4 separate regions of the Homo sapiens genome follow, and all the other regions are reported to be linked to region 1. The links are microRNA targets in miRTarBase. Many come from high-throughput screens and were not tested one by one. Region 1 holds a microRNA gene; each other region holds the end of a gene's coding sequence.

Region 1 (7,290 bases):
AGTTCTTGCTCAGCGGTGGGGATGCTCTGCTTGCCCGCTCACGCCCATCCCCCTTGAAACAAGGTGTCTGGACGGACCACACCCATAAGCGGCTCTCCGCAAACCCAGGCAGACGCCCGTCTCCTCCGGGTCTCAGGGTGGCCACATCCTCCCCCACCAGGGCTCTGACAGCAGGCACAGAGCAGCAGCACGGGCAGGGTGGAGCGGGAGCAGCGTGTGGGGGCCCCCGCCACCCCCAGAGCTAGTCTCAGACCAGGAAGGGAGCTGGGCACCAGAGAAGCGACATCACGTCGGCACCTGTAACTCCCGGGATCCGTAATTGGGCCCCGCTTCCCCCAGCCTCGCCCCCGGCCCACTGTGCGTTCGGCAGCTCAGGTTAAAACTGAGGGGAGGGATACATTCAGACCGCAGGCCCCAAGGCTGCGCCCAGCTGGGTGCAGGGAGTAGGGAGCCGAGTCAGAGCCACCCACTGGGCTCTGAGGGCCCAGCAAGCCAACCCCGACCCCTCCGTTCGGGAGCAGCAGCCAGACCACGCCAGTCACAACGGCGGCTCCCGTCCCGCCCCAAACTAAAGTGCACCCCAGCCCTCCAGCCCCGCCACAGAGCTCCGGCTCCCCACCCCTCCCCACCGGGTTTTTCGGCCTAAACCCTGAACTTTCAGACAGGCTGGGCCCGGGGGTGGTGGCAGCCAAAGCAGCAGCCATCATGTCGACCATACAAATGACCTGAGAAATCCCGTCTGCGCGTCACCCACTCAGGAGTCACCCACTCAGGACTGGCTCGGGCTATGTACAGGGGAGAGGAACGGTCAACACTCACAGCCAGGGGCGCACTCGCACACGCCGGCCGGACGGCGGGGGCCGAAGCAACACCTGCCCCCCAGCCGGGAACTGATGGCCGCACACGCCATTCACGTGTCTCCAATGGGGCCTCTGCATCATCTATTCATTGAACCAGCGCAAAAACACCTTCTGCGGGGCAGGCAGGCCAGGCTCCCAGGAGGACACGGGGGTGGGGTGGGGTGAGACGTGGAGGAAGAGGGCCTTGCTTCCTCTTCCGCCCGCAGGCTCGCCCCCTTCTCCCGCAGTCGGGCTCCCTGGTGACGGGGCCGCTGGCTGGCTGTCCGTCTGGCTCCCTCTCTATCCCTGCACGCTCGGAGAAGGGTCCTTGGCAGCCGGGGGCTGGGAGCCCAGGTCTCCTGGGGCCCCCGCTGGCGCGGGCTCGGTAGCCATGGGCTCCTCGGCTCTATCCCTGTTTCTGCTGGCCTCCTGGAGCTGGTGCCGCCGCGCCACCTCGGCTTTCAGATTCTCCAGGTCTTTTTGGCTGAGGATAAGGGTGGGGATGGAGGTGGCTCTCAGAGGAGTCCTGGGGGCTCCACCCGCCTCCCGGCTTTCCTGTGGGATAAGCTCAGGCTCTGCGCTCTATTCAGTGGGGAATGTGTGTGAACAAGCGCTTCCCTCCTGAAGGCGGAAGGTCCCTGAACACGGAGAAGGTAAGGACCCCGCACCTGACCCGGCCTCGGGGCTCCCCTCGCTGCCCTCGGTGGCCTCCCTCCAGCGCAGGGGGAGGAAAGCGGAGTTGGGGGGCTGCTGCCACGCCTTGCTGACCAAATCCACTCCCCACAGGAGGCCACACTGCTTGTGGCCACCCCGGGGAGCCCGGGGCCTGCTCCTCAGCCCCCCCCCGCCGCAGGATGGGAAGCGTGGGGAGGGAATGAAGCCGCTTCTTAGGGACTGGTGGGAAAACGCCAAGATACTTTGTGTGAAGCAGAAACACCAAGGTCTTCACTCGCGGAATGCGAGGATGCTGGGGAAGATAAGCGGGGCGGGCCGGGCGCGATGGCTCACGCCTGGAATCCCAGCACTCTGAGAGGCCGAGGCGGGCGGATCGCAAGGTTAAGAGTTCGAGACCAGCCTGGTCAACGTGGTGAAACCCCATCTCTACTACAAACACAAAAATGAGCCGGGCGAGGTGGCGGACACCTGTAATCCCAGCTACTGGGGAGGCTGAGGCAGGAGAATCGCTGAACCCGGGAGGCGGAGGCTGCAGTGAGCCGGGATGGCGCCGCCGCACTCCAGCCCGGGTGACAGGGCGAGACTCCGACTCACAAAAAACCCCCAACCGGGAGACACTCGAGTGGGGCGGAGGCCTCACCTGAGAGGAATGAAGAGGATGCCGTTAATGACGTTCAGCTGCTCCAAGACGCTGGCCATGCTGGGGGCCGTGAACTGCGGGGCGGGGAAACCAGCGGTGAGCGGGGCTCCCGCGCTCGCCGGGCCGGAGGGGCCGCTCCGCCCCGGACTCACCTTGAGGGGCGGGATGTTGGCGCTGGAGCCGTTGCGGTAGATCTCGTTCATGGTGCGCTGCAGGGCCACGGCCTGCTGGGTCAGGCACTTGAGGTACTCGGAGCTTTCCTTGGTCTTCTCATGGTCCTCGCCCAGCTGCGGGGAGGCGGGAAGGGATCAGGCCCCCCCGTGCCCCCGCGGCCCCGCCCCCGCCCCGCCACGCCCCCGCCCCGCCCCCGCCCCCGCCACGCCCCCGCCGCGCACCTGCGTCTTGTAGATGGTGTAACCCTCCTTCTCGTGCTGCAGGGCCGACCGGAACTCAGCTTTGCTCTCGTAGACTCGGGCGACAAGGTGGTGGCTGCCGGGAGGCGCGGCGCGGGGCGAGGGAAGGGCATAAGTGGGCTGGGTGTGGGGGCCTGACTCGGGGGCCCGGGGTCTCCCGTAGATCCCTCCCTGGAAGCCACCGAGGGGAACAGCAAGTCCAGGGCTCAGGGAAGAGGGGGAGGTCGAGAGAAATTTTCTCGGGTGGAGGAAGACAGGAGCACTGGGTCTCTTCCCCGCCCCCGCCGGCTGCCCCGCAGGCCTCCGCCGGCCTTGGCGTTTGGACGGGCGGCCCCTCACCTGAGGGCCACCTTGAGGGCCTTGGGCCCGTGGTACTTGGTGCTGACGGCCAGCGCGTTCTCCAGGAAGCGCAGCGACAGGTCGTACTCCATCACCCCGTGCAGCACCAGCCCGATGTTGTTCTGGGGGCAGGCGGTGGGGGGCCCTGGTCAGCTCCCGGTCCCCTGGGATGGAGCTGGGTCCCTGCCGCCCCCCCGCCCCAGCACTCACGTCCAGCAGCGCCATCTCGGGGTGGTCTTCCCCGAACACCAGCAGCATGAGGTAGCGGGCGCGGTACAGCAGGCTCAGGGCGGTGGACAGCTGGCTGCTGGCGAAGCAGTACAGGGCCAGGTGCATCTGCGGGCGGGGCGGAGACAGGTCAGGGTGGCCGCGGACCCAGCCCCTCGCATCCCCCGGCGCGGGCGGCACTCGCGACTCACGTATTCCTGGATGGTGTTGGGGTGCTCGGTGCCCATCACCCGCTCGCTCATCAGCACCGCCTTCTGCTGGTTACTCAGGGCCTGGGGAGAGACAGTGGTGGTTGCCGCGGCGTGGGAACCCCCACTGCACCCAGAGCCCGCCTGGCCCCGGCCCAGCAGCCCACGGTGCCGCTCTGCAGGCTCCTGTCCCCTCCGGCTGCGCCCAGCACAGTGCAGCAGGGGGGAGGGGGATCAGCAGCAGCTGCTGCCACACCTTGAAGGGCAGGTCACGCTCCACAGAGAGCTCCACACACCCATGTCTTACACCCAACAAAATCTCCACAAACACCCAAATACAAACCTAAAACTACTAAAAATGTTACAAAAAAAAAAAAAAAGCCTGAGCAGGGGTGGGTCCCTTGAGGTCAGGAGTTTGAGACCATCCTGGCCAACATGATGAAACCCCATCTCTACTAAAAATACAAAAATTAGCTGGGTGTGCTGGCTCACGCCTGTAATCCCAGCTACTCGGGAGGCTGAGGTGGGAGAATCGCTTGAGCCCAGGAGGTTGAGGCTGCAGGGAGTCGATATCACGCCACTACACTCCAGCCTGGGTGACAAAGCAAGACCCTGTCTCAGAAACAAACAAACAAACAAACAACCCACCCATTTATAAACAGAAGAAAAAACAGTCCCTTTGCAGGGAGTAGGGATCCTAAGACATGCTAACCCTGAAACAGCCCTGGCCAGGCAGGGCACCCAGAACCCCACCACAGCCTCCACCAGCCCCGGCCAGGCAGGGCACCCAGAACCCCACAGCCTGCACTGGGCACAGAGGACGTGGGAGCTCGGTGGCATGCTTCCTGCCCACTCACGGAGTCTCAGGAGGCGTCCTTGCTGACGCCCTGTGGGGGGGTCCCCTGCCATCGCCTCCCAGAACTGACCTCACCGCAGCACAGGGTGCTCCTGAGCTCTCCCGCTCGGGACACAGTTACAGAGGGGTGGAGCCAGGGGTGGCCTGGGCAGAACCAGCGACTTCCTGGGGTCTCCCTGGACTCCACCCACTCCTCCGTCAGGGGCCCCCTCACTCCCCATCCCCCAACACGAGGCCAGGCCTTTGCTGCCACAGCCCAGAGGGTACCTCTGCGTAGTCGCCCATGATGTAGTGGAGGCGGGCGAGGAGGCGCAGGCAGGCGCAGGTCTCCACGTGCATGGCTCCGTAGACGTTGTTAAACAGGTTCAGGGCCTCATTGATGAGCTCACAGCCCTCCTTCAGGAAGCCTGCAGGGCACCCCCAGGGGTGGCAAGGTCAGGACGGGCCATGGGGAACCCCCACCTCCACCCAGCCCCACCTGGCCACACACCCTGCTGCACTTTGGCCTGCCCGCTCTGGAAGAAATGGAAGGCATCCGAGGCCTTGGGGTTGACGTGCTTGACCACGGGGAAGATGTTGAGCACGTCCTCCTCGGTGAACGCGGGCTTGTGGCGACTGTCGAAGCTGTACTCCTTCAGCAGGACCTGGGGGGCAGCCCCCCCACCACAGGAAGCCTCAGGCCCAGGTTCAGCGGGTTGGCACCTCCCAACCCACCAACGCTTGCGCACAGACGGCTACCGTGAAAAAGCCACTTCCCCTGTGGCCCTGGCCAGGAGTGGGAGCCTGCAGCAGGGACGCAGCGGGGACACAGCGGGGACACAGCGGGGATGCTGTGAGCCATGCCCACCTGGATCCCTGTTTTCAGCGAGATCTCCCGCAGGAGCGTTATCTTCTGCAGGCCGTAGGTCTCCACAGCCTGGTCCACGGTCTCACTGAGGAGGGAGCAGGGGGCCTGAGCAGCCCAAGCACCGCCGGGCCCCCCCAACACCGCCCCACCCAGCTCCCCAACGCTGTCCAGCCCGGGCCCCCAACACTGCCCCACCCGGCCCCCGGGAGCCTCCCGGCTGCCCTCACCCTCCAGCACCCAGTGATCTCCACAGCTGCTCCCTCTTCTCTCTGACTCCCTGGCCTATGACCACAGGCCTTAGACGCCATCTGGGAGCAGGTGGTGGCCGCCTCATCTGCCCAATCCCACCCACCCCACCGCCCCTGCCCCGCACGCACCACTCGAGGTCGAAGTCAAAGTAGTTCTTGGCCTCCTGGCAGATGTTCTTCCAGAGCTCCTGGGGGGTCATGACAGCCCAGGCTGTGTTATCTGCAGCCCCCGGGGGCCGGTTTTTCCTCCTCTTATTCCGCTTCTTGGAGACCAGCTCGTCGGCGGGCAGGTGGGCCACGGGGTTTGGGTAGGAGCTCAGGAAGCAGTTCAGGAAGTGGCTGATGGCGGCTGAGAGGCCGGAGAGCTCGACTCCCTGCGAGGCAGGTTGGATCCGAGTCATGAGGGCCCTCAGCCCCACCTCAGGCTCTTTCCCGACGCCCCACACCACCCTGGGAGGCCATGGCCAGCCGCAGAGCGGACGGGTGGCACCTGTAAGTACGTCTTGAAGATGTGCTTGGCCGAGCGGGTGATGAGTTCTCCAATGCCGATTTTCTGGAAGGATTCAGAAGGGAGGTCTTGGTCAGGCCCCCGGCCTCCATCCCAGTCCCACAGCTCCCGTTCCGCCCCACCCCGGGCAGCACTCACAAAGACGTGGTCCAGCTGGTGGCGGGCCGGGCTCCGCAGCACCAGCTCCAGCACCTTGCCCAGGTAGCGCATGTTGATGCCCCGCTGGCGCATCACCTCTGCCAGCGTTGCCCCGTCCACGGGCAGGACCGCGTGCTCCATGCAGTCCTTCACCTGCGGGCTGCAGCAGCTCAGGCCCCCACCCAGCTCCTCTGCCTCCACCCAACTGAGTCCTTCTGGGGGAGCACAGCTATCCTGGGAGGCCCTGGAGAAGGACCCCGAAGGCTCCAGCTCCCAGTCAGGATGTCAGAATGTGCCCAGCCTCTGGCAGGAGCGCAGGCCAAGAACCAAGAGCCCGGTGGTGGTACAGGCCCCCTCTAACCATGTGGGAGAAGCAGAGGTGCCCGCTTGGGGGCACTACTTGACCCCCAGCCCCGTGTCCTGAGGCTTGGAGGCCACGGTGTTGGGGGAGCACCCAGCATCCTGGAACCAGACACAGAGCCTGCGGGAGGAGGAGGAGGATGGGCAGCCCCCACTGAGCTCTGGCCCCGTCCCCCAGCCATGCCACCATCCAGGGCTCAGAAGACTGGATTACCAGCTGCCAGCCCACACGGTGGGCTCAGCAGGGCCTGTGCCCTTGACCTCTGGGGGTCAGGCTCCCCATCTGTCAAACGGGGATGCCCACTCAGGGAAAGCTGAAAAAGTCACTCCTGCGAGCCTGTGTTCATGGGCCTCCAAGTCGGAGACAGATGAGGGACCAGCACCCTCCACACAAGCCCCACCCAGCCCCGCAGCCCCTCCCTCACCAAGCCAGGGATCTGGCAGGAGAGCAGGAAGGCAGCCGCGTCCTTCAGCAGCTGCTTCTGGTCCCGAACTTCATCCTGGCAGGACTCAGGGAAACGAACCCCTGGAGGAGGGAGAGCAGAGAGGCTGAGCCAGGCAGTGGCAAGACAAATGCCGCCTGGCGCTGGCGGGGGAAGCGCTCAGATGGGGGACAAACCCACCAGCCCCAAGGGCCCAGGCCCCCCAGCGAAGCTCTGGCCCTGGAGGGCTCCTGCGCTGGCCGGCCCCCACCACCTGCCTGGTGAGAAGATGTCAGGATTGAAGCGAATGTCGAAGGCGGTGCTGCTGATGGAGCCGACCGCCTTGCACGCGTTGCGGATCACCTCCCGGCTCCGAGGGTCTGCTGTGGAGACATGGCTCCATGAGACACGGGTCCCCTCTGCCACCGGTGGAGCTGGGCTGCGCCAAGCCTCGCCCCCTAGCTCCTTGCAGAGATGTCTGCCAGCCTCTCCCAGGTGGGGGTCATAAGCCACCCTGGCAGGGCCAGCCCGGGCTCTCTCCCGGCCATCTGCAGCAGCCCCACCTGTGCCGTCGTCTGCGGCGATGGTC
Region 2 (8,037 bases), not on the chromosome of region 1:
AATTCGAATTCCAAAGATATCAAGTGAGAATGCCTTTTTTTCTCCCTTTTCTCCTGCCTGTCTTATCTTATCAGCCTTCCAGATGAGTCAGGGCTTGAAAGACATTCAGCCTGCAAAAGCAGACTTAAAATAGAAATGGAGAACACTACCCCCCTTCTCCAGATGTTTGCTGGCCATAGGCAGTTTCATGCAAAAATCAGTTTGCCCGTGTTGACTGATCTACTCAGTTGCTAATCAAAAATCAGATTAAAGCAGACCCGAATTAGTCACTAAGGTTTTTCCGTGTCAACCTGTGTAGTTTGCATTGCATCTATTGTAGCCCCAGAATTACAGTTTAGAAAGTGAAAAGCATTGACTCAGTCAGAAGGAACAAGGACAAGCATTGTTAAGTATGCCGTAGCAGTTTTTCTCCAGTGAAACAGTGTATGCAGTTCAGTATCTTGGAAATATTTGGAATTTACTACTTATTTTCAATGGGTATATGCAACATGTGCATCAATGTGTATGTCTCTCTATAGTCAAGATTATCTTCACTTTCAAATGTTGTTGAATAGCATGGGAGAATAGCATATTCTTTTTGAGCAAATACATTCAATTCTGTTTTTACAAATACCATGTTTGTAAGTATCTTAAGAGCATGATTTTTTTGTTGTTGTGTGTGATCTCATTTATTTAAAGAAAAAAAACAAAATAGCCAAATCCGTGGAGACAGAAGTGAGGCTAGTGATTGGCAGTGGCTGGTCAGTGGGGAATGGGGGTTTAGGCACTGGGTCTTCATTTGGGGTGACACAAAAGTTATGGAGCTTGAGAGTGGTGCTGGTTGCACAACACTGGAGTATACTTAGTACCACTGATTTGTACATTTTAAATGAGTTAAAATGCTAATTTTGTTATGTGTATTTTACAGCAATAAAAAAAAGACTGTGGTTAGATATCTAAGTGTAGACTTTCACAGGCTTTCAGATTTCAGTCTGGAGATTAGGGGAGCAGTGAAGGCTGGAGGTATAAATTTTCAAGACATTGGTAAAAAGATGATATTTTAAATTATGGACAAAATCCTCACCACCATCCTGACTTTTAGCCATGTGACATCCCTCTGCTAAGGGGTGATATGCCAGTGTTTCTGGATGGAGTTTATATTTACTGCATCTTTTTTGCATACAAACACAAAAGGCATTTTTGTCTTAAAAGGGGGACAATTGGATTATACTTTATCAAACAAAGCCTCTAACTTCTATCGAAAGGGAGCTAGATTTTTGGTGAGATGTGGAAGTAAAATCTCCAGGCCACAAAAATACAAGATTGGGGCTTATCTCGCTTCATTAAAAATCTGACTTTATACTTCATACTTTCTTATCATTGCAGGGATTGACATTTTTAGATAGACTGATGATTCCTGGTTTTATTCATTACAAAAACATATATTAAGCAATTATATTGGTGTAATTATTAGATAACAAGGAAGTGACTGTGAACCAAACATGATCTGTTTCAAGAGATTTTTCATCATGTTGGTCAAAGAGACCTTACAAGATTGAAGAACCCCCGAATGACAGTTGATAGCTTCTTACTATGAAAAGTGTAAGACCCATAAGAAAATTTAAAAAAGGATTGAGGCTATTTTGTTTGCAGAAAAGGGGTAGATTTAGACAGACATGGGTTTGAACCCCAGTTTAGCCATTTACTAGCTGGGTGATCTTAGATAAGTTACTTTATTTCTCTGGGCGCAAATTACCGCCATCTGTTAAGCGAGGTAATAATAATACCTGGCCTTCATCCAGTTTTTGCAAGATTTAAGTGTCATATTCATCTGTGCCCAGCAGAAAGATAGAGTTCAAAAGGGAGCAGCAATTTTCATTTTGTTGAATCATCGACATAGCATGCTGTTTATCAGTATTGTTACTAGTAATATTGAAGTTTCTTCTCACATTAGATAGGAACCTCCTTACTTTACAAATGCTTTGACAGAGGTACAGGGCTGTCCTATACCCTACTCCCAGGTTTGTAGCTTGGTAGTCATAGAACTGATATTTAAAAGCCATTAAGACCTTGATCATCATTTCCAGTAGAATCCATGCAGTTCTGCTGTTTCAAAAAGCCCCGTGGCCCCTCTTCCCTTTGAAGCCGGGATGGGGCTGTTTTGAGTGAATTTGTTCTCTCTTTTCAGATGCCTACGCGAGAGGATCTGGGGCTTCCACTTCGAATGCATGTACGCTGTCAGCCATCAGTACAATAATGATTTCCCTCACAGCTAGGTCCAGTTTATGACAAAAGTTATCTGAAGGACTTGCTGTTTATAATATAAGCAACATTTAGCTAGTTGTTTTGAAGACACCCAGTACTAAGTAATATTGTTGTTCAAGTACATCTTATTACTGGAATAAAAATGTTTTTTGCTTCTTTAGGAATGGCATTATACAGTACTTCCTCAAAGCAAATCTAGCTTTGTCTGAAGTTTCTTTGGAAACTCTGCAATGCACTGAAGACATCTGTAATATGATGTTACCAAAGCAGTTTACATATGTCCTTATATGCATATTTTTTATTATATATTTAGTGTTTTATAGAATTTTTTAAAGTTAACATATAATGTAGATATTAATTTTTTCCTCGGCTGTAAAATGCTATGGGCAACACAATCATGCAATTATAATTTGAAAATATTTCCTTTAAAGACAGAGTTTGAAACTCATCTTGGTAAATAAATTGCAAATTACTCGTACAGTTTTACAAGGATCTCATGGCAGAACAGCGGAAGACTTGGTCCGTAACTCAAGGCTGTTGTATGCAAACTACTCTTCTAGTGGTTAATGCACTTGACATGTACAGTATGTTTCCCATGCCGTTGTGATTTTGACATGTACAGTATGTTTTCATGCCGTTGTGAATTTTGTTGTTCAACCCAACTTGAGATGGTTTCAGGAATGGCTGCAATCTCAAAAGCTCAATGTACTGCCCAAGAGGCACCTTGTGCAATATTCCCATCCCTGAATTTAGCATTGTACAGGAAGATTTTCTTTTCACTCAACTGAGTTAGCATTGTCTTTGTGGTAGCATTATCTTAGACATTAAATTTGAAGTAACATATATCCTGTAGTAACATAGACCCAAAGTTACTATAGTCAACCAAGTCTTTCAAAGGATAAAAGATCATTTTATTATCTTTAACTGTATCTATTTTGAATGTAAATTTAAAAAAAGTAATTCTCTGTCAATGGATTCGTAATTTCTTTACAAAATTTCTTATATATAATATGTGTATCTCTGTAATAATAGAGCCCTTCTTTTGAATCAAAATTACATATGGACTTTGGAAGATTGCTCCTATTTCAACAAATAGTTGCTGCAAGAATTTTTAATATGACTCTATAAAAGCTCTTTAGTACAATTGTATGGTTTCTTGATGATTCTGTTTTGCAATAGGTAGCCTAGTTGCTTTATATGCTTTACCTTCTAGGTCTTAAAATCACACATTGGAAAATGACAATATCAACAAAACTGTATTCTTATGAAAAGAACTATTTGTTACAATGAGAAAGGTTTTGTGAGTAAACCCTACTGGACAGTGACATAAAAGGCAATGGAATTTTCTATAAACATTTTCTCATGTAAACATGCTGCCACCTTTTCTTCTTTCTCAGAGAACTCAAATTTGCTATAGTTTGTCATTTTTGCTTACAAATAATATAACTTTTCAACCTTCTAGTTATATTTATCCAATAAAGTCATAATCGGGATTCCATTTGTGTAAAAACTAGGGTGGTAACCGGAAAAAAATATTGTCAGTATTTCAAGCTGTGTTCCTTTCTTAGTTTGATATGGTTACTTCTATGTTGAAATAAAATTTAAAATCACATGCAAAAAAAAAATCAGCAAAATAATAAAATGAACGAAAAAAAATGACACCCAGGGAGTTCCCAACCCCAGTGTAAATGATATTTACCAGTGATCTAGCATATGTAATCTTTTTTAAAGGTATTGTTAATAAATATTCTGTCATTTGTAAAGATACTTGTCTTTCGGGAGCATTTTTCCTGCCTGCCTGTCAGGGAATTTGTTAGCTTACCTTTGTGCTAGTTATAATTTGGGATCATAGAGGGACTCAAAAGTCTCTACCCAAATCTAGATGACCCAGAGCTTTTCCTTTGGAATTGACAACCCTGAAGCACCATTTCAAATCCTCTTTGGAAGTAGAGAGGGTCCTAATCCACAAGTAAATGTCCTGAAGATGAGACTTGAATATTTTCTCTTGATTAGCTAAGTCTTTTGTATATTTACTGTAAGTATATCTGTTGTTTCCCTCACCCCCCATTGCTAAAAGGGTAAGTTCTAAGCTTGAGCATTTAAGGCTCTTTTTTTTTTGAGACGGAGTCTCACTCTTGTCACCCAGGCTGGAGTGCAATGTTGCGATCTCGGCTCACTGCAACCTCCGCCTCCCAGGTTCAAGCAATTCTCCTGCCTCAGCCTCCCGAGGCGCCCACCACTACACCGGACTAATTTTTGGATTTTTAGTAGAGACGAGATTTCACCATGTTAGTCAGGCTGGTCTCAAACACCTGACCTCAGGTGATCTGCCCGCCTCGGCCTCCCACAGTGCTGGGATTACAGGCTTGAGCCACCGCACCCGGCCCTTAAGGCCCTTTTTAATCCAAAACGATTTAACTGTGTATCCAGCCACAGTAAGCCCTCCCTGACCCCTGAACACTGCTTGCTTTTGGTCTCACCTCTGTGCCTTTGGTCTTATGGCTGCCCCTTCCTGAAATGCCTTCTCCACCCTTCTCTCCCATTCAGATCCCTGCTGTCCTAGGGTAGCTCCAGCCCCAGTTTGTCTGCAAAGACTTCCCATGCTTCAGTCCTTTATGACATTCTCGCTTGGAAGTAGTTGCATCCCCTATCAATGCTGCTCATTTAGTAATTAATCAGATACTACTTTTGGAAATCTCTTGTACTGTTATCTTGCATTTTAATTTAACTCCTGTATTGTTACTTACTTTTTCTTGTATGTATGGCTTGTCTTCCCAACTAGATTGTAAGCTCCTTGAGGGCAGGGACTTTGGTCTTATCTTCCATGTACTCTCCATAGTGCCTAGCACAGTGCCTTGCAATAAATACTCACTGATTAATTGAATGAAGGGGTCTTTGAAGTAGCATTTTGCATCAGTTGCCTGCCTGTGTGCCACAGCAAACCAACCAGGGAAGACTGTGTCATTACTTTCGTTATGTGCTGAAAAGCGTTAAAAGGCCTGGCTTCTAACTTTGTACCTGGAAGAAGTCTTTGACCAATTGGCTTCATCATCGGGTAAATGAGGTCCTGGATTAGTTGAGTCTAACTGAATTGAAGATGTTTTAGAAAGTGCCCCATGAGCACCTCCACCCAAACTTGTCTCATTTGTTGGCTTTCATGGTTGCCTCAGGTAGGGTCCACTGGCTGTAAGCAAAGAAACGACCCTGGGTAACTTGAGCAAACAAAAAGTAAGGAATTAGAATGACACAGGTTACATCATATGAGCCAAGGAAACACTGAAGGACCAACTCTTGAGGAGAATAAGAACCAGGCCACTCTGTGGGTCCAGACAATGGGAACTTTGGAAAGTCTTTTTGGGGTGCTATTGTGGGGATGAATCAGCTTTGTTTCCAATTTTGACGCCATTATGCTCAATATTCAGATTCCTGGGAAAGTGATCAGTTCCATTTGAGTTCCACAGCCAGAGTACCTTGTACTCACAGGGGAGGGATAGTTAAAGGAAAACTAAGATGCTGTTTTCCAAAGGTAAGAGAAGAAATGCTGGGTTGGTATAAGTAACAGATTTTCTAGGCTTAGCCAGCCAAGGGGACTTTCTTAGGCCCTTAGCCCAAGTAATACACTCGAGTGGAATGACTATATTGCTGCTTGAGATTTTTTTCTGAAGGAGGACCACTAGGAAAATTTGCTTTGCTTGTTTAACCTTTCAAAGTGCTTACTCTTGCCCTCCTTTTTGTGTGTGTAGTCCACTTGTGATTTAACTGTATGAAAGGAAATTCTATTGTGCCAGATATTTGGATTCTCTCAGTGTACCTACTTTCTATGGAGCCCACACATGCTACATACAAAGCAGCACCTTTCCATGGGCACAGAAGACATGGATGATAAGCTTCATTTCTCAGGTAAGCTCTGAATTCTTCCAGCCTGTGAGGTAGAAGGTGCATAGACTTTGATATTAAGAAAGAATGATTGTGTTATTCCCACCATCAAAATTGTGGTTGTTTATATCCAGGAGGCAATGTTAAATCCTGATTAACCTTTACCCAGTCTCTTCCACCACCTTGCCTCACTACAAATATGCGCAAAGAATGTTGAGTTATAAAAAGTATACAAATAGCACATAATTAGCAACAAAAATGTCATGCAGTTTTTAATCTAATGTAATCAACCAACAGGTGATTTTTGTTCACTACATTGGATTATCGATGCTACTGTTCTCCTCCGTTAACACTTATAATCAAGAAGTGACTGTTATTTTCCTGTTGTTACAATTTACAAAATGTTCTGGCTAAAAACGTTATGTGGCCAACCATAGTGCTTTGAAAGGCAAGCCTTTAAAATCAAGGACTTATATTCAATCTGTGGACATACCCCAGATTTTTCCATTACAAAATGCCAGACACTGAGGCCTTACAAAGGCAGCCTAATACAAAGACTAAGGACGTGGATCCTGGAGTTTGACTGCCTGGGGTGCATTGTAATGATTGGCTACTTATTAGGGAGGATAAAGTTTGTAAAGCTCTCCAAACAGTGATGATTTTACCGTCTGTTATTGTTCTTTTTCTCCAGGGACTTTACTAGACCCACAGATGTAGGATGTGGATGCTTCTTATCACCAAAATGAGTGGAACTCAGCTGACACATCCATTATCACCTTTTATTTAAACATGATCACTTCTTAATATAAATTTTAATGTTCGATAATTTTAATCATACAATCAACTAATTCAAACTTAGGCAGTAGGGTTCCCATTCAGATGCCAGGTTTTGCACAAAGCCTCCCTCAGCTTCCCCATCTGAAATTGACCTTGCATTTCTCTGACCTCCAGGGGATGGGGTCTGTACCCACTCATGTCAGTCATCCCTTCGTACCTTATATTTAAATCATTTTTGTTGGTGTCTTCCGCCTTATAGTAGACACACGGCACCTCAGCGTTGGCATCTGGGTGTGGTTCCTCATTGTGCTCCCAGGCACAAGGCCTGTGTCACCTCCATCTCAGACCTAGAGGGAGGAGAATATCTGGCCCCGTTTCCTGTGATTTCCTCAGGCCCCCTGCCAGAGTGTGATTAGTAAATGCAAGTCAGGCTGCCCATTCTGCAAAGAGGCCCCGTTTCCCCTTGTGCTAAATGGGCCATGCGGATTAAATGTTCCAGCTCTGCAACTCACCTGCAAACTACAATACTCAACAGAGATCACAGTTTAAACAAAATTGGCCTCTATCCTTTATCACAAGCAGTTATGGGCCATGGTAGATTAGCAGAGCTCTAGTGATATAGATCACATAGAGAGAAAGCTTTTTTTAAAAAAGGTCAACCATATGATCGATCTGAAAGTCTGGAAATTGGAAGGCTGAGCTACTTAAATATAGATGCAATTACATGTGATATCCCCATTCTCTGTAAACTGGGTTTTTGCCACATATCCTTATTGTTAGGAATAACACGAACTATACCAGGAAATATATATGTCCTAGGACTTTAACAAATAGTAATATCTTTAATTTGTTTTTCTAGTTTTCAAAGTGCTTTTCACACTAATAAGGGGAGGACATAGGTTTTTATTCCTTTTTTATTTATGAAATGGAAGCAAAGAGGTTATATAAGAAGCCCAAAGTAACATAGACAATTAGAAAGTCAGGGCTGGGCATGGTGGCTCACACCTGTAATCCCAGCACTTTGGGAGACTGAGGTGGGGGGATCACAAGGTCAAGAGTTCGAGACCAGCCTGGCCAACATGGTGAAACCCCATTCCTACTAAAAATACAAAAATTAGCTGGGCATGGTGGCACGTGCTT
Region 3 (8,037 bases), not on the chromosome of region 1:
CAGTGAGCCAAGATTGTGCCACTGCACTTCAGCCTGAGTGACAAGAGCAAAACTCCATCTCAAAAAACAAAGGCTGGGCACGGTGGCTCATGCCTATAATCCCAGCCTTTTGGGAGGCTGAGGCAGGCAGATTACCTGAGGTCAGGAGTTCGAGACTGGCCTGGCTAACATGGTGAAACCCCGTCTCTACTAAAAATACAAAAATTAGCTGGGTGTGGTGGCGGGCACCTGTAATCCCAGCTACTCGGAGGCTGAGGCGGAAGAATGGCTTGAACCCAGGAAGTGGAGGTTGCAGTGAGCTGAGATCGCATCATTGCACTCCAGCCTGGGCGACTAGAACAAAACTCCATTTCAAAAAAATAAATAAATATGGCCAGGCGTGGTGGCTCACGCCTGTAATCCTAGCACTTTGGGAGGCCGAGGAGGGTGGATCACCTGAGGTCAGGAGCTCGAAACCAGCCTGGCCAACATGGGGAAACACCATCTCTACTAAAAATACAAAAATGAGCCAGGTATGATGGTGCATGCCTGTAATCCCAGCTACTTGGGAGGCTGAGGCAGGATAATTGCTTGAACCCGGGAGGCGGAGGTTGCAGTGAGCCAAGATCACACCACTGCACTCCAGCTTGGGTGACAGAGCAAGACTCTGTCTCAAAAATAAATAAAATAGGCCAGGCGCAGTGGCTCACACCTGTAATCCCAACACTTTGGGAGGCTGAGGTGGGCAGATCACGAGATCAGGAGATCAAGAACATCCTGGTTAACATGGTGAAACCCTGTCTCTACTAAAAATATAAAATTAGCTGGGTGTGGTGGCGGGCACCTGTAGTTACTCAGGAGGCCGAGGCAGGAGAATGGTGTGAACCCAGGAGGTAGAGCTTGCAGTGAGCTGAGATCGCACCACTGCACTCCAGCCTGGGTGAAAGAGTGAGACTCCATCAATCAATCAATCAATATAAAAATAACTCTCAGCTTCCTCAGGGGCTTTGAGGAGGTAACACAAAACTACGCTGAAGGAAGACAGCATTGTAATGAAGCAGAGCAGACTGTTTCCCTTTGGGCCACACCCATAGGGTACCTACTCTCTTTGCAGAGAAAGGGTGGCATACCCCAGCTCAGCCCTAGGTCTGCTGAGTTTCCACAACAGGGAGCAGGCAGACAAAACCAGCTGTCTGAACCTGCCTTCTCGCATGCTAAGCTGCCACTGGTGCTGAGAGAACTCATTGAGGCCAACCTGCTGCCTTCTGGGCCAGTGCTGCCTCTTAACTGGCCATCCTAGGCCTCAGTTTCCCCACCAGTAAAACAGAAGTATGGATTGTGAACATTTTGGGGGTTTTGTCTAGCTTTCAAGACTCGGATTGGTTTTCACAGTGATGGAGCGAGTCTTTCTCTATCCTGCGTTTAGTCAAGAATCCCCCAGCTGCTACCGGTGGCTGCCCACCTGCCTCAGAGGCCCAGGCCAGCAGCCAATTCGCTCTCTCTTCTGCTTTGTATCTGCCAGGTGAGGGTTCAGAGTATGGTGCCAGTGGAGAAGATGCGCTCAGCAGGATCCAGAGGCTGATGGCGGAGGGCGGCATGACAGCCGTGGTGCAGCGGGAGCAGAGCACCACCATGGCCTCCATGGGCGGCTTCGGCAACAACATCATCGTCAGCCACCGCATTCACCGCAGCTCTCAGACGGGCACTGAACCTGGTGCCGCCCACACCTCCTCACCCCAGCCCTCCACCTCTCGGGGACTGCTCCCAGAGGCCGGGCAACTGGCAGAGCGAGGCCTAAGCCCCCGGACAGCTTCCTGGGACCAGCCTGGTACCCCTGGGCGGGAGCCAACCCAGCCAACCCTGCCCTCTTCCTCCCCTGTCCCCATTCCTGTTTCCCTTCCCAGCGCTGAGGGACCAACCCTCCACTGCGAGTTGACCAATAACAACCACCTTCTGGATGGTGGCAGCAGCAGGGGGGACGCTGCAGGCCCTAGGGGAGAACCACGGAACAGGTAGAGACAAACGTTGCACTGGTGCCTCCCCTCGAACCGCCAAGCAGAAACCGGACCTCACAGCTGACTGGGAACTGGACATGTGGAAGAGCTGCTGGCTGCATCAGGGAACAGGAGGAGGAAGAGGGTCAGGGTGGAGAGGAAGATCAGTCAGTGGGCACAAGACAGTCAAATGGGCAAGGCCTGCCTCGGGGAACTAGAACCTTCCAGGATCTGGAGCCCGGGAGAGCCACACTGTGGGCTTAATGTGAATAGAGGAACAAGTGGGTATCTCTGCCAGGCACCCCACTTTCTCCTAGTAACATGGGCTCAGGGGACTCAGCCCTGGACAGAGAGCCTCCAGAGAGTGAACAGTCTTCCAGATCTGGGCCAATCATCCTGGACAGAGGCCCGCGAGGCAGCTTTGCCCTGTCCACCTGTTGGGTGGGCAGAGCCACCAGGAACCCAGACACCACCTCCAACTCTGAGCCTTCCAGAGCTTCAGCCTCTCTTCGTCGTCTTACCCCACTGAAACCAACAGGGATCGGGCCAGGCTCCCAGATTCTTGAGGACAGGGACTTCGGCATTTACTAATGGGGGACTACTGTGGGGTAAGGGGGCGCCTGCTTGCCTGATACAGGATGGGGTCAAGGGACAGTGGGCAGGTCCTCACTCAGGAGTGGGGGGTGTAGGCTGGCCAGCCCCCAGGGCTTGTCCACCAGTCTTCTCCCCGCAAGGCCCTCAGAGCAGCGCCTGTGGGTGTCAGTATTACCTGAGCCTAGGCCAAAGCTAGCCCAAGGCTGGGGAAGGGGAGGAGACTCCAGGTCAGAATGTGAGGTCTCAGTCTGTGATTTAAGGTGTTGCATGTGGACTCTTAACTGTACGTGTAGTTTCTAGTGGAGAAATCAAGGCTCTGATCATTTTGTTTTTAGTATGAAAATGTGATTTCCTTTCTGTTTGTAACTCATCATAGAAACATTGTGGTGGGAGGAGAGGGGATAGTCTACAGCTAATGAGGGAAACACCAAAGATCACATCATTAAAATGATGACATGCCCCTCGCCAGGCTCCTCTCTCTTATTTCCAAGGAGGATGGGGGAGGGGTGGGGATTGGGAAGTGAGGGGCATTGAACTGGGCCAGGCCCAGGTTCTCCCGGCACTGTTTCTGGTGCTCTCCTAGTGGGGTGCAGTGGACCCCTCTGACCCCTTCGCCAGAGCTGGTCAGGTGAGGGCTGCCACCTCTGCTTCATACCACTTCTCTGTACGCCACCACTTCCTGCTTCCCCAGGGCCTGCTACAGACTGGGGCCACCTTCCAGTGCCAGGGTGAGTATGTAGGAAGGAACGACAGAAGGCTATTCATCCTAATAGCTTCCCACCCAGGACTACAGGCCTGAAGTGATGTAACTGGCCAGAAACCTGGATCCCCTCCAGTCCTGGGAAAGCACGCACAGCAGGTGTCCAGCCTGCTAGGCAGGTGGAGGGGCTTGGTCCTATCTGCAGGCAAGGTGCCAGTTGCTAGCTGCTCAGGTCTCCCTTGACTGTGTCTTCCCTACAGTGGCCGAAAGGCCTGCTCTATTCGTGGGCTTTGGCTGCTTGAAAGCTTCCAGCTGGCCAGGCGTGGTGGCTCACGCCTGTAATCCCAGCACTTTGGGAGACCGAGACAGGCGGATCACTTGAGGTCAGGAGTTTGAGACCAGCCTGGCCAACATGGTGAAACCCTGTCTCTGCTAAAAATACAAAAAAATTAGCCAGGCGTGGTGGCTCGCACCTGTAATCCTAGCTACTGGGGAGGCTTGAACCCTGGAGGCAGAGGTTGCGGTGAGTCAAGATCACGCCACTGCACTCCAGCCTGGGCAACAGAGTGAGACTCCGTCTCAAGTGGGAAAAGGATATTTGCCCCAACTCTTCAAGAGCTCTAATGGAAAATCCAAGCAATTCCAGGGCTTTTTGCCAGCAGCACGTACTTTTGAGTGTGTGTGTGTGTGCCCAAATCTGTCCCTGATGCCATGGGGCACTCAGAATTCCAGGTTCTGCTCCAACAGAGACAAAACCAAAAGATAAGTTGGCAAGCAAGAAATAAAAAACCATGGCCAGAGTTAGGAAGACTCTTATTTTCTAGAAAATTCTGTATTAGTGGACTCTGGACTGAAAGACACATCACTTAGCTGTGTGACTTTGGGCAAGCCATTTGCCTTTTCTGGGCTTCACTTTCCCTTGTTAGGATGCAGGGCTTGTACTACACAACCTCAAAGTTACTTCTAGTTCTGTACTTTGGAATCACTGAAGCCCAGAGAGCACACAAGTGGCTAGGGCAGGCTTCCTTTCAGAGGTGGGATTTAGACACCTGTAGTCCCTAAGTACTTGGGAGGCTGAGGCAGGAGGATCACTTGAGCCCAGGAGTCCAAGTCCAGCCTGGGCAACAAAGTGAGACCGTATCTCTCTCTCTCTTTTTTTTTTTTTTTTTTTTTGAGACGGAGTTTCGTTCTTGTTGCCCAGACTGGAGTGCAATGGTGCCATCTCGGTTCACCGCAACCTCCATCTCCCAGGTTCAAGCGATTCTCCTGCCTCAGCCTCCCTAGTAGCTGGGATTACAGGCATGAGCCACCACGCCTGGCTAATTTTGTATTTTTAGTAGAGATGGGGTTTCTCCGTGTTGGTCAGGCTGGTTTCGATCTCCCGACCTCAGGTGATCTGCCTGCCTTGGCCTCCCAAAGTGCTGGGTTTACAGGCATGAGCCACCGTGCCCGGCTGATGCTATCTCTTTAAAAAAAAAAAAAAGTGGATTTGAGCTAAGCATTGAAGGATGGAAGGAGAAGGGAGCCCACTGCCCCACATCCTCTCCCCACCACCCGTTGGAGGAAGAATTCCTTGGTCTGATAGTGGGTCCTGCTAATTTGTTTAATGTAAACCACAGGCCAGGAGTCAATGTGCGTTCTCTCTGTCAATCCTCACAAAAACTCTCTGAGGTCATTACTGCTGTTACCCCCAGAGCACACAATTAACTGGCAGAGCCAGAGTTTGAACCAAGTAGTGTATGATTCCAGAGTGCACACTTCAGCCAGTCATTTCTACAGAAGGAAGACAAGGTGTAGGAGAAACAATGGAACCCTGACTTGTTCTGTTGCTTTGGGGAAAAGGGTATGGGGAGGTCCCTAGGGATGAAGTGGTCCAAATTTGTTTTTTGGGTTTTTTTGTTTGTTTTTTGTTGTTTTGTTTTGTTTTGTTTTTGAGATGGAGTCTCTGTCACCCAGGCTGGAGTGCAATGGCACAATCTCAGCTCACTGCAACCTCCACCTCCCAGGTTTAAGCAATTCTCCTGCCTCAGCCTCCTGAGTAACTGGGATTACAGGTGTGTGCCACCACACCCAGCTAATTTTGTTTGTATTTTTAGTAGGGATGGGGTGTCACCATGTTAACCAGGCTGGTCTCAAACTCCTGACCTCAAGTGATCTGCCTGTCTCGGCCTCCCAAAATGCTGGGTTTGTGGGCGTGAGCCACCATCCGGCCAAGGTGGTCCAAATTTGGACCTGCCAGGCCTTGTCTCTGCTGTCTCTGGATGGTGCCAGCCACCCTCCCCAACCTCCCCACCCCCCATTGGAGGCCCTTGTCAACACCTCTCTGTCCCCACACCAGCCCCTTTCCTTAGAAAGCCCTTGCCCAATGACAGAGCCTCTCTGGTAGTAAAACCTTTGCAGGCCCCTTACACGTCACAAGGTTGTGGGGTCACCAGGGCAAAGATAGGGGCAGTCCCTTTTGGAGATGAGGAAATAGGTTCAGAGAAATTCTGTTACTTGTCTGCTGACCTAGTGGCATCAAAAGCAGAGCAGAGAAACCACCAAGTCCCCTTGTTCCCAATTCAGCTCTCCAGGGTTCCACCGTGGGTTCTTGGGGTTGGGAGATTGAGAGAGGTCAAAAGCCCTTCATAACAGGGATTGTGGAGAAATTAAAGTGACTTTGCCTGCCAGCTTCTGGAAGAGCTGGGGTCAGTAGCTGGAGGCGTGTCTTGTGTATGCAGCCTCCCGCCCTTGGCCTTGCTTGTTTTCTCATCTGACTGTTTTAAGGATCTATCTGCCTTCCTCCTCCACAACCCCCACCTCCTCTTAGGAGTATCACACTCTTCTGTGCCCTGGGAAGGATATGGCAAAGTGGAAGAAGTGCAGGAGTGCCGTCTTAGGGTCTTATGAACCAACTTTCCTTATTTGTGAAGTGGGGCAAGAAGAGTAGTGCTTCTTTCACCCCCAGTTATGAGGTCTTGGGAGACCCGATCATTCATGTAACAACAGAAGATGGCTTCCTACTCTAGCCAACCAACCCCAGCCCTGAAGTTCCCAATTCCGACCAACCCCAGCCGTCGCGCTCGCGAGCTCTGGGGACCCGAACTCCACTTCCGGGTTCCGCGCGGAGAACCCCACACCAAGAGCCCCGCAGCGCTGGCTTCTACTCGAGTTCCCTCCCATTCTCTGCCAAGAGGCTCCTGCCTCTCCTCCACCGCCGCCCCCGCAATCGCCCTCACCACCTCCGGCCCTCGGGGGAGGGTCTTGAGTTGTTTCCCCGAGAGAAGAAATCAGACGTCTTAAGCTTAATCAAATGTTTGCGATCAGAATTTGGGGTTACAGGCCTCGGTCCTGGGCGCAGTGGGGAGCGTCCGACCCCGGCGGTCCCCCGGAAGGGCGCTCTCGGAGGGAGACAAGCGCTGGAGCGGAATCAGGCAGGCGAGGCTGCTGGGCCAGGGCGCGGGGAGCTCTCCGAGGTGCTGAAGCCGCCCCAAGGTCCGCCCAGCCTGGGCGAGGCCCGGAGTCCTGAGGCTACGGCCCGTGCGGTTCCCAGCGACCTCTGAGATTGGCTGCCCGCTCTCCGGGATCTTGTCCCGGGCTCCGGCCCCGGCGACCTTGGGCAACCGACTGTCCCTCACAGGCGGCGGTGAACTGGCGGTCCAGGCTGCGCCTGGACTGGCGGCGCGTCCCATCCCAGGGCTGGGAGAGCAGGGGCGCGCCCCTTCCCCGGCCCGGAACGCTGAGCAGGCAGCCGAGCGGGTGCGGGCGAGTGGTCCGCGGTGGGCTCTTCTCTCCCCGGCCGAACCTCTCCAGTCCACCCGCTCCTGCGCTTCCCCAGGCCCCGACGGCGCCCCTCCTCGCGGGCGGCCCGGCCGGCACGCAGCGGCGCGGCTGGAGCTCCCGGCCCTCGACCCCGACGGATCCCTGGCGGCGCAGCCCGCCCCACCCACCCGCAGCCTCCCGCTGGGGTCAGACTCCCGCGCCTCGCGGCCAAACCGCCAGCGGGGCCACGCAGGGCGCTGAGGTCCCGGAGAGGCGCGAAAATAGCTCAGGGTCCCGGGAGTATGGTCAGGGCGGAGGCGGGAGCGCGGCCGGACCCAGCTGCCAGCTCCTTCCCCAGCCCGCGAGGGGGCGCCGCGTCCCCATGACAACGCGGACACCCCCACCCCCCGGAGGGCAGCGCCCCCTGCTCCCCTGCGTCGCTGGCCGTGGGCGGCGCCCTCTGTGCCCAAGCAGGGAGCTGCCGGCCAGCCCCCGAGAGGGGCGCGGACCGCCGGGGTCTCCGACGCCTCGGGTGTTGACCCCCGCGCGTCGCCGCCGGGTGACCGGCCCGGGGCGGGCGGCGCGGCCCCGCCACGATTGGCTGCTTCCTCGTGACATCACGCGGCTCGGGGAAAAGTGCGAGCGTGAGCGCGAGTCGGAGCCACAGCGCCGGGAGCTGCGGGCGGAGCAGGGGCCGCCCCTCGACACCCCGTCCCCGCCCCCGGCCCTCGGCCCGGCCGCCCGCCCCGCCGGCCCGCGGGGCCGCGCGTCCGTCCCGCCGTCTGTCTGGCGCGAGGGGAGCTGGGCAGAGGCGGCGGGTAAGTGGCTCCGCGGCGGCGCGGGGGCGGGGGGCTCGCCGGGAAGAGCAGGAAGCAGGTCCCCGGGACGCTCTGAGGCTCCCCAGAGGTGGGTTCGACTGGGACAGGGCGCCAGACCCCCTCCGGGGCGAGCGCGGGCCGGGAGCGGCAGTGGGCCGGGGCTGGGGGACCCCGCTGGAAGCAAGGCCGGGGGCTCTCGGAGGCTTCTCCA
Region 4 (7,546 bases), not on the chromosome of region 1:
AGGCGTGAGCCACCGTACCCAGCCTGCAGCCACGGTTCTGTCTCTTGCCTGTTCTCTGGGAAGCAGGGGATCGGTTGAGGCTCAGGATTGGTTTCCACTTTACCAATTCCTAAGACGCTGTCTGGCACACAGCCGGGGACAGAGTTGATGGCCAGTGAATGTTTGTTTTCTTTTCAATTCCCAGAAAGTACCGGCGTGGGTCCAGGGATTCATTCAGTTGCACCCAATAAGCCTCGGAATCTCTCTCCAGTTCCCCAGAGAACCTCAGTGTGGGCCCAGAGATGAAGCTGGCGCCCAATACGCTTTTTTTCTTTTTCTCTTTTTTGAGACAGTCTCGCTTTGTCCCCAGGCTGGAGTGCAATGGCACAATCTCAGCTCACTGCAACCTCCGTCTCCCGGGTTCAAGCGATTCTCCTGCCTCAGCCTTCCGAGTAGCTGGAATTACAGGCGTGTGCCACCATGCTCAGCTAATTTTTATATTTTTGGTAGAGACAGGGTTTTGCCATTTTGTCCAGGCTGGTCTCGAACTCCTGGCCTCAAGTGATCCTCCCATCTCAGCCTCCCAAAGTGCTGGGATTACAGGCGCAAGCCACTGCGCCCAGCCCCAATAAGCATTTAAGCCTCCCTCATTTCCACAGAGAGGCTGATCATGTATCTGGGAATGCCGTTTGCACCCAATAAGTGATTGGCTCTCTCCCACTTCTGCAGGGAGCCCCCATTGTGGGTGCAGGGATACAGTTGGAGCCTAATAAGCATTTAAGTCTCCCCCACTTTTGCAGAGAGCCCTGGCATGCACCAGCCTCAGCTGGCACCCGCTAACACCCTTTCTTCTTAGTCCTGTAACGGCTTGGCTCTACCTGCAGAGACACGAGCGCCAGGCCCAGCATCGCTACCAGCAGCAGCAGCGCAGGCGGCGGGAGGAGGAGGAGCGACAGCGCCATGCAGAGCACCATGCCCGGCGGGAGCATGATTCTGGTGGCCGAGAGGAGGCGAGGGCCGAGGGCTCTGGGCTGGACCCTGCCACCTCCTCCGAGAAGGCCTCTGCCAAGGCCAAGGGCAGCACTGCGGGTGGCCACGGGCCTGAACGGCCCAAGCGCCCAGGGTCCCTGCTGGCACCCAACAACGTCATGAAGTTGAAGCAGATCATCCCACTGCAGGGCAAATTCCTCTCGTCAGGGGCCACATCCTCACTGGCTGCTGCAGGGGCCGGAGCCACCACCCGGCCTCCCCCTGCCCAGTCACCCACAGGCAGCGACACCCGCCTGCCTGCCTTCCTCAGCTTCAAGTTCCTCAAGTCACCCGAGACCCGGCGGGACTCTGAGCGCAGCCACTCACCGCCCAAAGCCTTCCATGCTGGCAAGCTCTTCCCCTTTGGTGGCACCCGGGCTGAGCCTGGGTCCAACGGGGCGGGCGGGCAGGCCCGGCCAGATGGGACCCCCAGCAGTGGCAGCAGCCGGGTTCAGAGGAGTGGGCCGGTGGACGAGGCCCTGGCTGAGGAGCTGGAAGCCCCCCGGCCCGAAGAGGAAGGCTCAGGTCACAAGCTTTAACTCGGGGGTGGGGACGCCGGGCCGGCTTTGGGGATAGGGTAGGGTGGCCAGGCCTGGGGAGAGGGGCTGAAGGGGACAGGGGAAGCCCGGTCTTAGGTCCTGGTGGGGACCTGGGTCAGTGGTACGTGGAGCCTCTCAGTTAAAGCCTGCTTAGTATCTCCAGGGCCTTTGTTAGCCTGGAGCCCCGTGCCTGACCCTCCCCAGGGAGGGATGCCAAAGCCCCTTGTCCCAGGACTGCACCCAGGGACCCCCACCATGCTCCGGTGCCAGGAGAGATGAGGGAGGCCTGTTTCCCAACCAGCCCACCCTTCTCCTGCTCCAGCTCACTCTTGGGGGGGACTTGACCCCCCAGGCCTCTATGCAAATCCACACCCTGCAGCCCAGCTGTTCAGGAAGGCCTTCCTCGAGGTGGGGCTGGGGCTGCCCACCCAGGGAGCTCCCACATGTGCTGAGCAGAGGTGCAGGCCTCACCCCTACCCTCCCACCCCCACCACCTCCCCTGCCCCAATCCCAGCCTGGGCTCCAGCAACCCCATTCCCAGGGAGCCCAACAGGTGGCAGCTGCAGCACAAGGGCCATAGGTCAGAAGCCAGAGGGACTTCCTCAAACTGTCCTCCCCCTGTGACCGGCAGGGCCGTGCCCAGAGGCAGGGTATGCACCGGAAGCCGCCCAGGGGGCCGCCCCACCTCAGTCTCTGATCAGAAGCAATAAGGCCTTTATGTGCCTGGATGCCCGGGAGGGAGCGCGGGCAGGGTTGCCAGCCCGGCGGGGTCCGGCGGGGGCGGCATCCCCCCGGAACGGCCCCTCTCGCCTCCGCAGGGACAGCGCTGGCCCCCGTGGGCGCCCCTGCCCTCCGCACCCGCCGCAGCCGGAGCCCCGCGCCGCCGCCGCCAATGCCGCTGCCCCGGCCCCCGACACCGCCCGCAGGCTGCTGGCAGTGGGACGGGCCCTGGGGCTGCGGGGGCGAGGGTGCCGCCCCCCGCCAGGCCCTGGCCGCTGCCGAGTGCCCACCCTGTGCCATGGCCGGGCCCCCACCCGCCCCCCAGCCCCTGCCGGGAGACGCCAGCTTTTACAGCCTCCCGCCCCCACCGCTACCGCCCACCTCGGATCCCCTCGAGACCCCAGCGCCCTCCCCTAGCCCCAGCCCCAGCCCCCAGGCCGTGTGCTGGCCCAGCGGCTGGCATTAGCTCTACCCGCCCTGCCTTCTCTTCTCATATGCAATATCAGTCATTCACAGGGGCGGCCGGTCTCCAAAATGCAAAATGCGCTTCAGCCCCCGAGGGCCCCCAGTATTGGTCGGTGCCCCCCATCTGCCGTTTTCCTTTCCAAACGAAAGGAAACCCACAAATCCAACAGAAAACACACACACACACACACACACACACACACACAGAACAGGCGATTATTTATTTGTTTTTAATTTATTTTGTCATATTTTTGTAAAACGGCAGAAATGCAATAAAAACTATATTTCAACAGTGCCCGAGGTCAGAGCAGTGGAAAAGGGAGTGGGGGTGGGGGAGTCTGGGTGGCTGGGGCCTAGGTTGGGAACCCCCTCCCCCCATCCTGGTACAGGCTGGCTTGACCCATGAGGGCCTCCTCCCAAAAACTGGGTCTTGGCCACAGATGGAAAACTCCAGGCTGCGCCGCCTCTGAGACGGCCCAGATTTGGAGGCCAACTTCAGCCCTGGCTTCAGCCACTAGACAAAGGAAGGAATCTCTAAGTGCTGAAAAGAGGCGACAATGTGTGCACAGGCCCCAGTCCTGAGTAAGACTCCTTCTCAAAGAGGACAGCGCGGTGGTTTGCAAGACGTGGCCCCTTCTGGCACACCCGCCTCCTGGAACATCGTCTGGGGAGCCAGAGACAGTGGGAAGAGCTTGTGGCATGAACATCAGAAGGCACCTGGCACCTGAGCCTCCTGCAGTCCCCGACTTGTGATACTGAGAGAATGGCACATTTGGGTGTCCCCAGGACACGGGGTGGCATTGGGATGCAGCAGGGATGTCCCACTGTGGGACAGACATCAGACCCAAGTCACTGGGACTCTGTCGTATGACTCAGGAACAGGAACGTGGCCTCTCAGACCCTCACATTTTTCAGGAAGAGGACAAATGTGTCCACATCCAAAGGCTTAAGGCTCAGAGACCAACATGGCCATGCTGCAGGGCTGGGCCAGTGTGAGCAAGGGGCCCTTTGGGAGGCTGTGGAGAAGTCAGAGTTCACTGGAGGCAGGAGAACAGCCTGTGCAAAGGCGGAGAAGGTGGAAGGCAGTTTGGGGGAACAGTGGGGTAAAGGGGACCCCAAAGGCAGGAGGGGTAGACAGAGGCCGGCTCAGGGGCCCAGCGTCCTCCCACAGGCAGTGGGAGCTACACAGGGTGTGTGTGCCAGGTGGGGCATGTCCCGACAGACCCAGGGGTTCTAGGGGGAGGCCACAGGGAGGCAAGCTGGGGCACAGCCCTCAGACCCCAAAGGAGGGAGCTGAGGTAGGGGAGGGGAAGGAGGTGCCCGCCCAGCAGCCCTGCAGAGCGACGGGCAGACAGCACAGGCAGGAGACAGCCCCCAGCCACTCAAAGCAGAAACTGGGAGCCAGAGAGGTCTAGACAGGCCGAGGGGAAAGGCGGGAGTGCCCCCTGCTCCCACTCTGGCCCCTGGCCTTGGAAGCTGAAGTCCCACCATCTCAGTCATTCACAGATGGACACCGCAGGCCTGCCCAGGTCACACCAACCCTGGGGACTGGGACTCCCCAGCTGGCCTGGGAGCCTCCAGGGCATTCAGCCGGACCCGGCACCATCGACCGCAGTCAAGTGTGCATTTCCTGACCACCTGTCCTGTGACCACATGGCCCCTGTAGCACCATCACTGTGGTGTAGACACTGCCGGGAGCTGGGAGGTACAGCAGGGTGGCTGTGCTGTGCCTGGGCCTGGTCAGCCACTCCTTGTGTAGGACGGGAGCCCACCCTGGCACTCTCCGTCCTTGGGAGAGATGGGCCGCCTAGGCCCGAGGGTCTGACACAGGCAGGGCCCTCCACAGTGGAATCTGGGGCAGGCGGACCCTCCATAGCCCGGAGTGTCTGCTAGCTCTGTGGCCCAACCCTACACCATCCCAACGCCCTCAGACTCAGCTCTCAAAACAGAGACCTCTGCCAGGCACGGTGGTTCACGTCTGTAACCCCAGCACTTTGGGAGGCTGAGGAAGGTGGATGACTTGAGCCCAGGAGTTTGAGACCAGCCTGGGCAACATGGTGAAACCCTGTCTCTACAAAAAATTTTTAAAATATTAGCCAGGCAGCCAGGTGCGGTCACAGCACTTTGGGAGGCCGAGGCAGGCGAAGCACCTGAGGTCAGGAGTTCGAGACCAGCCTGGCCAACATGACAAAACGCCGTCTCCACTAAAAATAGAAAAATTAGCTGGGTGTAGGGGCGCACGCGTGTAATCCCAGCTACTCAGGAGGCTGAGGTAGGAGAATCACTTGAACCTGGGAGGCAGAGGTTGTAGTGAGCTGAGATCTTGCCACTGCACTCCAGCCTGGGAGACACAGCGAGACTCCATCTCAAAAAAAAAAAAAAATTAGCCAGGCATGGTGGTGGGTGCCTGTGGTCCCAGCGGCTTGGAAGGCTGAGGTGGGAGGAAGGCTTGAGGTCGAGGCTGCAGTGAGCTGTGATTACGCCACTGCACTCCAGCCTGGGAAAGAGTACAAGACCCCAACTCAAACAAACAAACAAAACAAAACAAAAGAAAACTGAGATCCCCACCACCACCAGTGGGGGCAATAAGGGGAGAAGCGGTGTTCCCCCAGCCCCAGGCTCAGTGGTCAGGGCCACAAACCTTCTGCCCAGAGCCCGAACACCCCTACATACCCAAGCTCAGCCCCAAACCCAGCCCAGCTGGCGGAAGAGGGGTCCCCATGAGCGGCCATGGCACATGCCAACTGCCAGGTGCCAACCTTCTGTACAGCTCCTCTATGACCCAGCAAGGGTGAGGCCACCACCTAGGACAGCAAGACCGGCCAGATGCCGTCTGTACTGTCACCATGCCTCAGGGGAGCAGCAGAGGCCAGAGACCCCAGGCCCCCGGATGAGGCCGGCCATCTCTGCGGTGTCTGACAGGTGCGCTGCCCTGCTTGGCGGTATCCCAGGCAGGGGGCTGACCCCGCTCCATCCTTGGCACCATGGACCGTCTCTCAGGAATGACCTGTCCTTGGGGTCACCTTGACAGGAGAGGCAGAGGGGATGGTCCAGGCAGGTCTTGGCCTTGAACATGGTGGCCTCAGCAAGCCCACGAGAGAATCCAGCCGGTCCTGGGGCCCCTGGCGTGGGGGGCCCTTCTCACTCCTCTTGGTGACAACAGGGATGACTCCCAGGGGCTCCGTCCTCTGCAGCCAAGGTGTGTGGAGCAAAGACGCGAGGTCAAGTAGGAAAGACCCTTTTATTGGGGTGGACACGGAGCACGCACTAGTCCATGATAAAAATAAAATGACTCAAGAGAAAGATCCCAAGGGCCGACTTCTCCCCAACGTGCGTGCACGCTGAGTGAGGCCTGGGCATGGGAAAGTTCCGGGCGAAGCGTGGGACAAGACCGAGTCTCAATGGCCTGGACCGGTGTTGGGGGGGAGAAGGCCACTCGGCTGTCCTGGTAGGTCAGGCCACCCCGGGCCCGCCCCTGTCGCCCGGCCACAGTAAAGCCCCCGCTAGAGACTCTCACAGACACACTCTGGTTCTCTGGAGAACTGGGGGCAGGAATCGGGGAACTGGCCCGATGGAAGGCGGGGGTCGGGGGGACAATGTTGTTTTTTTTAAAAAGCATCTACCAACATCACACTACTGGGTCTGATGTCCCCTTTAACCAACGCTTGATACAGGTTACAGCATAAATAAAAACTCAAGGAAAATAAATACATCGGCTCCTATGAGGTTGGAAGTGGTGTGGACGCAGGGTGTGGATGGGCCGGCAGGGAGGCGGGCGGGCGGGGTGCTTACACATGGCGGGCAGGCGGGTGGGCGACCGAGGAGCAGACCTGGCAGGAGGCGCCTGTGGAGTTGAGAGTCTTAAGTGTCCTCGTGCATGTCTGGGCTGTCGGTCCGCGCCACCTTGCGGGGAGGTGCGGAGCTCTCGCCTTCCAGCTCCACTTGCTCCTGGTCTCTCTTCTTGGCAGCGTTCTGGGGGACAGGGAAAAGAGAGGGGCTGTGAGTCTTTTTTTTCGGACAGCCTCAACCTTCTGGGCTCAAGCAATCCTCCCAGCTCAGCCTCTGGAGTAGCTAGGACTACAGGCACATACCACCACGCTTAATATTTTTACTTTTGGTAGACATGGGGGTTTCACTATGTTGCCCAGCTGGAGGCTGTGAGTCTTCACGTGGGTGAAGCTCCCAGAGTCATAATGCCAGCCCAGGCCCCTGCAGCAGCATCACAGAGGTAGGCCTGGAGTACAGTGGGGGGCCCCAGGGTCCCTGGCTAGGCAGCCCCTCCTACCACCAGGACCTGCCCCACTAAGCCCTGCCCAGAGCACTTTCTGGACCCATGCCTGGTGATAGACAGGTGTTTCCTGGCACCCGGAGTCACCCCCACCACATGCAATGACCCACACAGGGCTGGTTTCTCAAGCACTCAGAGGAGCAACCCACCCAGCCTGGGAATAAAGGGCCTTTGGAAGCCACTGGGGATGCCGCACATCAACGCAAGACAGAAGCACACGCCTCCTTCCCCGCTGTGGAAACCAAGTCCTGGGGGGCAGGAGAAGGGGTGGGGGTGGGCCCAGCAGCTTGGATTTTCAGAAGCAGTCACTTTGCCACACAGTCCCCCGACCTTCCAACTTTGCGCAGGGTAGGCAGCCACCCACTGTTCAATGTTAGGTAAAAAAAAAAAAAACAAACTTGCCAGGCGCGGTGGCTCATGCCTGTAATCCCAGCTACTCTGGAGGCTGAGGCAGAAGAATTGCTTGAACCCAAGAGGCGGAGGTTGCAGTGAGCTGAGATCACGCCACTGCACTCACTCCAGCCTG

The links. The annotated mature microRNA hsa-miR-6776-5p reads UCUGGGUGCAGUGGGGGUU and lies in region 1 at 3,442-3,460, opposite strand. An mRNA with a match to its seed (bases 2 to 7 or 8) in the 3' UTR can be bound and repressed. Matches are read on the target gene's strand: a 7mer-m8 pairs with bases 2 to 8, a 7mer-A1 pairs with bases 2 to 7 and ends in A, and an 8mer does both.
Region 2: the mRNA of CNTN4 is a reported target of hsa-miR-6776-5p. Seed matches in the 3' UTR shown: 7mer-m8 at 2,333-2,339 and 7mer-m8 at 3,904-3,910.
Region 3: miRTarBase lists AMBRA1 as a target of hsa-miR-6776-5p. Seed matches in the 3' UTR shown: 7mer-A1 at 2,434-2,440.
Region 4: the mRNA of DDA1 is a reported target of hsa-miR-6776-5p. Seed matches in the 3' UTR shown: 7mer-m8 at 4,956-4,962 and 8mer at 3,070-3,077.

The regions. Positions count from the first base shown.
Region 1 is chr17:2,689,455-2,696,744 of GRCh38, forward strand. It overlaps MIR6776 (microRNA 6776), which reads right to left and starts at 3,465; the gene lies at 3,407-3,465. CLUH (CLUH binding protein of NUMT mRNA) reads right to left here. Exons shown (of 26, transcript NM_001366661.1): 11 at 7,265-7,290; 12 at 6,980-7,084; 13 at 6,705-6,805; 14 at 5,920-6,072; 15 at 5,764-5,826; 16 at 5,403-5,647; 17 at 5,026-5,110; 18 at 4,669-4,822; 19 at 4,446-4,585; 20 at 3,326-3,406; 21 at 3,117-3,242; 22 at 2,907-3,028; 23 at 2,550-2,643; 24 at 2,307-2,441; 2 more. The coding sequence ends at 1,140. RefSeq lists enhancers at 1,756-2,264, 2,265-2,772.
Region 2 is chr3:3,053,953-3,061,989 of GRCh38, forward strand. It overlaps CNTN4 (contactin 4), which reads left to right. Exons shown (of 25, transcript NM_175607.3): 24 at 1-23; 25 at 2,168-4,007. The coding sequence ends at 2,268. It overlaps CNTN4-AS1 (CNTN4 antisense RNA 1), which reads right to left and starts at 7,193. Exons shown (of 4, transcript NR_046554.1): 1 at 7,115-7,193.
Region 3 is chr11:46,391,408-46,399,444 of GRCh38, reverse strand. AMBRA1 (autophagy and beclin 1 regulator 1) reads left to right here. Exons shown (of 18, transcript NM_001387011.1): 18 at 1,502-3,031. The coding sequence ends at 1,995. It overlaps CHRM4 (cholinergic receptor muscarinic 4), which reads left to right and starts at 7,669. Exons shown (of 2, transcript NM_000741.5): 1 at 7,669-7,914. RefSeq lists an enhancer at 5,881-6,655 and silencers at 7,309-7,358, 7,539-7,628.
Region 4 is chr19:17,318,704-17,326,249 of GRCh38, reverse strand. DDA1 (DET1 and DDB1 associated 1) reads right to left here. Exons shown (of 5, transcript NM_024050.6): 5 at 2,952-6,704. The coding sequence ends at 6,594. ANO8 (anoctamin 8) reads left to right here. Exons shown (of 18, transcript NM_020959.3): 17 at 864-1,533; 18 at 2,366-3,027. The coding sequence ends at 2,733. Among named protein-coding and RNA genes, the nearest start is that of ANO8, 12 kb to the left of the region's middle. RefSeq lists enhancers at 1,399-1,899, 2,687-2,736, 4,278-4,894.